Homo sapiens: one gene and its partner. The protein of the gene in region 2 interacts with the protein of the main gene of each other region in a pairwise test. Each region holds a gene or a part of one and is shown on either strand. Other genes may lie near its edges. The genes, in order: GNG2 and ADCY2.

Region 1 (4,035 bases), on a different chromosome or scaffold from region 2:
TGAGTTTCATTTTCTGTGGGTTGGATGTTCTGGTGAATTTGCAGGCAGCTTGCTGTACAAGCTGAGAGAGGAGGTGAATGATTAGGATGCTTCATCAGATTTGGGACTGACCCACACAGCAACAGTGACTAAAATCACAGGACAGAATTTGATTAGGGAGAGGGAGAAATTAAATGGCCAAAGACTCGTATCTTGAGAACACTCATATTTGGGGAGCAGGAACTGAAGTTAGTGAAGTTGGAGCCCGCAGAGAGGTAGGAGGAGATTTGTTTCATCTACTTCTTAATTACTTTGTGTGCGTATGGAAAAACTAAGCATGTTTACAGGGAAAGAGGAAAGGACCAAGAAAGAGAAGAAACTAAATATGTAGGAAAGACAGAATTATTGTCACAACATAATCCCTTAGAAAGTAAAAGGGAATGGGATAGAGAGTCCAAGTAGAGGGTTTATTCTTGGCTTAAAGGAAAGATGATGTTAATTTGACTTAGGAGGAAGAGGAGAATGAATGATGTGAATGACGCAGATCTTTCTGTCCCCCTACATACCCATATGTTGGAACCTGATCCCCAGTGCAATGGTATTAGGACATGAGGCCACCTTTGGAGGTGATTGGGTCATGAGTATGGAGTCCCATGAATGGGATTAGTGCCCTTATAAGAGAGACTGGAGAGAGCCAGCTGGCCCCTTCTGTCATGTGGGGACACACAGAAAGTGCTGTCCACGGCCTTTGCCAGACATCAAATCTGCCAGTACCTTGATCTTGGACTTTCCAGCCCATAGAAGTGTAAAAAAAAAAAAAGATTTCTGTTGTTTCTGGGTTACCTCATCTTTGGTAATTTGTGACAGCAATTCAAATGATCTAAAATAAAGGAAGACGTGGGGAAATTCTAAGGTGGTAAGAATGAGGTTGAGGAAGTCTGTAATATGTGCCTTCTCAGAAAGACAGAAAGTGAGGTCACTTCTAACGCACAAAGGCAGTAGGGACTTGGTTGAATGGTTTCCATTGAAAATGCACAGGACAGAGTGAAAAGTGAAATAAAAAAGGAAGAAGGAAAGAATTTTGAAAGAACAGCAATGGCCCTGCGGAGATGCAGTGAATCTAGAGTAGAACCAGTCAGCCCAGTTTTCAGCCCCTCTCCTCTACCTCTGAGTGCTGGGTTCCTGGGAAGAGGATCAGGGGAATGCCTGACCCCACACCCGGGCTGGCCAGGGAGCAAGGGAAGGCCAGGGAACAGGGAAGAAGTGGTCAAGAGACTGGTTTTTCAAAGCTTTTTCATTAACAGCTTGACTGTTTACACATATTTGCCAAGAGATAAAGGGGCTGATCCTGTCTTATCTCCAGCCTCTGTATACAGTAGTACCACTTCTAAGAAACATGTTATCACTAAAGTTTGAGAATTGAGCTCCCTTTTTTTTTTTTCAGTGTTTAATGAAGTCCTCTAGAGATTGTCTGAACACTGACTCCCACTAAATACAACTTGTTGTCTTTAACATAAGAATTTTCAAGAACCATATATTTACAGATATCTCTAATACTCTTACCTGAAAATTTAAATCTCTATTCCACAGTGGCATCTTTCACACCTGAACAAGTTTGTACACAGAAACTCCATATTTACATAGGGTACTAAATGTAAACCGTCTACTCTTTTTTTTTAAACAAAATATTTTAGTCTTACAAACAATTTTAAATGTGACAACATATAAAGACTTTGCCCTAATATGAGGTAAGTGAAATGGAGTTGTAACTGGGAGGTGAGGAATTAATGAACTGTTTAACTCTAAATTCCAGGCCTATTTTATTATCCCTTATGAAGAGGTCAATATAGGCTAGGTCACCCCCCAGATCATTTTTAGCTCTACCATTCTAGCATGTCCTAGGCCAGGGACTAAGTCCTTTATAAATTTTTTATTATATTTTTAATTGAAAAATAAAAATTGTGTATATTTATGGGGTACAATGTGATGTTTTGATACATGTATACATTGTGATGATCAAATCAGGCTAATTAACATAGTCATCATCTTGGAGGTGAGGGTGGGAGGGTGGAGACTAAATCTCGACACAGCTCTGCAACTCTCCTCTCCCACCCAGATCTAGTAAAGACAGGCACCTGGCTTCTCCCAGTAATTGTAGAATGAATAGATGTGCACATTAAATAAAATTAGGGGTCATTATTTGCAAACTTCCCTCCACCCCTGGCCCCCAGCACATGGACAAAGTGCATTACAGAAAGTTAACATTAATTATTCAGGAGCTCTTCAAACCATTCAAGGTCAACGTCTGACCCCACATCGTAAAGCTCAGATACTGTTGCTATTCAATAGGGTCCCTGCTAATTGTTCTGCCCAGCTCTCCTCAGCCTCACCATACCCTGCCTCACCAGTTTAAGGATTAGGAGTAAAATCTGTCGTGGAAAAGGAAACAGAGGATTCATTATTTTTAAAAGTGAAATTTTGGTTAGGATCACACTTCATTAGTAGAAACTTGTTGTCTCAGAAACTTGTTGTATTGTTTAACTACTGTAGCCCCTCCCCACAAGTTACTGCTCCCCCTTATAAAGGATTTCAGAGCAATTTAGTACTTTAGTTTCTCCCCTCCCTTTCTGGCCATGATACCTACTGAGCATTTTTCTCTAATGAGGGGACCAGAAAAGCACTGAAGAAACAGCTCTCCAGTGCCTCCGTAGTGGTAGCCTGGTCTGAGATTTGACCAGCAGAATCACTGGTGTGACTGTCTACAATAAAGGTTTGAATTTCACTATCAGGTTCTGGACATCACCAACTAGCAGAAGCTATGCACATTTTCTTACTCTGTCCTTTTGATTTCAAATGTTACTTTTGAGAGGAGTATTTTATTTACGCAGGGATAATACTGTTGTATAAAGGAGGTTAAATACGAAGATTATGATTATTATCTAATGACACATTATGTTAAAAGATCCTGCCATTTGCAAATGTCTCTTCAAAAATTTGATTAAAAATTTGCAAATATTCTCAACACAGTATTTCTGGGGAAAAACATCAGCAAGGAATATGAATAGACATTTTTCTAAGAAGATATACAAATGGCCAATGAGCACAAGAAAAGATGCTCAACATCACTAGTGATTAGGAAAATGCTCATCAAAACCATAAAGAGATACCACTTCATACCTCTTAAAATGGCTATTATCAAAAACATAAATAAAAAACAAAATAAATATTGATGAGAATGTGGAGAAGTTGGAATCCTTGTTCATTGCTGGTGGGAATGTAAAATAGTGCAGCTGCTATGGAAAACAGTATGGCAATTCTTCAAAAATTAAATATATAATTACTGTGTTCCATCATTTTCACTTCTGGGTTCCCAAAAGAAGTAAAAGCAGGGACTCTAACAGATATTTGTACACCCGTGTTCATAGCAGTATTATTTACAATAGCCAAAACATGGCCCGAGTGTCCATCAAAAGAGAATAAACAAAGTATAGTCTATACATTCAATGGAATATTATTCAGCTTAAACAGGAAGGAAATTCTAGCACATGCTACAACATTGATGAATCTTAAAGACATTATGCTAAGTGTATTAAGCCAGTCACAAAAGGACAAATATTGTATGACTTCACATATATGGGATACTTGGTCACATTCATAGAGACAGAAGTAAAATGGGGGTTTCCAGGAGCTGAGAGAAGGAGGGAAAGAGGAGGTATTGATTAATGGGTATAGAATTTCAGTTTTGCAAGATAAAGACAGTTCTATGGATGGACGGTGGTGATGACAGCACATCAATGTACTCGCTACCACAGAACTGCATACTTAAAAAAATAGTTAAAATGGGAAATGTTATGTTATGTATATTTTATCACTATAAAAAAAGTCTCCCTAAACCTGTGAGGCAGTGGTAAAGACCAAGAATATGCTAACTTTTCCTTATGCCACCAAGGAAGAAAAAAATAACATTTCAGTACCTTCTATGTAGAAATCACTCACTTATCCGCACACAAAAGCAAAAACAAAGCAAAACAACAACTTTGATTATGTATTACTAGC
Region 2 (2,222 bases):
AGGTGTCTTTTATTTATTTCAAACAAATGGCAGTAGTTTATTTCGAATGCCTTTGGGTGCATTATACCATATTTATAGTAACATAATAGAAAATATATAAAGTTTGGGTTATAGAAATATTTATAAATTATTCATTATTCAGACTTGATTTCAACAAAGACAAGGCATCTGTAAGTGACTGTAATAAATCAAAGTCAAACTAAATTATTTTCATTTACTTTCAGTCAGACCTTACTCCCTTCACCTTCTACTACATACTGACTTTCAAAAGGCAGGGCTGTAATTGGCCAAGATTTCAAAAGATCTCACATTTGTTAGGCCATAAGAGAAAATGAAGTATATTTCTCTCGGTATCCCAATGTTTATCATTTAAAGCCAATGCATGAATGCTTGTTAAAGCCATCACACATCATATCTTCTTATATTAATGGATTGTTTTGGTTTATCAAATTTTCATCACTGGGCAATTATGTTGCTTTTTCTTTTTTTTCTTTTTTTTTCTGAGACAGAGTCTCGCTCTGTCACCCAGGCTGGAGTGCAGTGGTATAATCAAGGCTCACTACGTTCTGGACTTCCTGGGCTCAAGTGATCCTCCCACCTCAGCCTCCCATGTAGCTGGGACTACAGGCACGTGCCACCATGCCAAGCTAATTTTCTTATTTTTTTGCAGAGATGGGGGTCTTGCTATGTTGCCCAGGCTGGTCTCAGACTCCTGGGCTTAAGTGATCCTCTCTCCTCGGCCTCCCAAAATATTGGGATTATAGGAGCCACTGCACCCGGCCTGATGATGTTACCTGGTCATTCGGTGTATCCAGAGCAAAGGAAAGATGAATGGTTGCTGCCTTTAGGAGCACAGTGAGTTGGGAAGGAAGAATAACATCCTGGATTGATGACAAAACTTAGACACTCCTAAACAGATATGTAAAACACTGGGGTTTTTGGGAAACTGGACTGGAGGCAATTTCTATGAGAGGCTTCCTGTAAGACTTAAAGGTTAAGGAGAGCATTGGGGAGAGATTTTTTTTTTTTCTTGAAGCCAATGGCACTGGGACCTGGGCTGATGAGAGGTGCACTGCCAGTTTTCTGCCTGGCATTTTTGCTCACAGGGATGCTTTTAGCTGCCCAGAACTTTAAGGAGCTTTGACCAGGAATAATGCTCTTTCAGATTCAAGGAACAGGCAGTTTTCCATTCTAGCCTGGCCTCAACTGCTAATCAACTGTGGAACTCTGAACACATGTGCCTGAATTACTCTGCCCCTGTTTCCTCACCTGCAAAAACACTGGGGAGGGAGGGAGGTCTGAAGCTTGATCAGGGATCAGAATCACCTGGAGAACCTGTTCACTAAACAGCAGTTGTGCTGGGCCCCAGCCCCGGGGATCTCAAATTCAGGGTCCTCCTTCAGGTTGGGGCCTGAGAATTTGCATTTTTGATAAGTTCACAGGGGATGCTAAGGCTGCTCCTATGGGACCACACCTAGAAGGGACCAGGTACACACAGAGCTTCCCATAGTGGATTCTGACAATGACTCAATGCTTTTAAAAGCCTATTGTTTGGTAAGACTGGTGATATGGCTTTGGGAGAGCACAGTTCTCCTTTTGAGTTCTTTTTAGCGCAAACCCAAGTTCGGTGCACCCCGTGGGGGAATGGGAGGGACTCTGTTTATGAGAACTTGGTGGACCACCCAGCTGGGGGTGTTCACTCAGGGTAGGTGAACTAAGGTGACCTGCGGATGAGTGTAGCAGGATGTAACAGAGGAAGAACCCACGAGGCACGCCTGCTGCTCATCCTTACACATTTTACACCAAGGCCAGTTTGAGCTCACGGAAACGCTACGGCATCCGTGAAGAATGAGTTAGAGGAAAGAGAAAAGCCCTTGTAATAATTCTCTTGCTTTAATCACTGTTTTTGGAGATTTAGGTATATTAAGGCCAATGCTGAGTTGTGATTACAGGATCAAAAAATTCCCCATTGAGGCAGAATACTAAATAAGTCATGCTCTACTCACACTTCGGTGATGAAGGACGGTTATCAGCTTCGATAAGTGCCTTTTACTGGGAATGAGTCACAGTCCTGGCACAGCAGCTGTGCCCGTGCTGTGAATGTACCACGGGGCACCTGCCAGGCTCGCTCACAGTCATTGCCTCGTTTAATCACTAGCGAGTCCATAAGTTGCCAATAAGGAAAGTACTCCTAAGAGGGACTAAGAGATGTGTTCAAAGTC

What was found.
Region 1: the proteins of ADCY2 (region 2) and GNG2 come close enough for resonance energy transfer, tested with the Homo sapiens proteins (one study listed by BioGRID).

The regions. Positions count from the first base shown.
Region 1 is NC_000014.9:51,863,335-51,867,369, reverse strand, and holds part of GNG2 (guanine nucleotide-binding protein G(I)/G(S)/G(O) subunit gamma-2 precursor), read right to left. Parts: intron 1-4,035. UniProt on the Homo sapiens protein: Guanine nucleotide-binding proteins (G proteins) are involved as a modulator or transducer in various transmembrane signaling systems.
Region 2 is NC_000005.10:7,828,360-7,830,581, reverse strand, and holds the end of ADCY2 (adenylate cyclase type 2), read right to left. Parts: 3' UTR 501-2,222; downstream 1-500. UniProt on the Homo sapiens protein: Catalyzes the formation of the signaling molecule cAMP in response to G-protein signaling. Down-stream signaling cascades mediate changes in gene expression patterns and lead to increased IL6 production.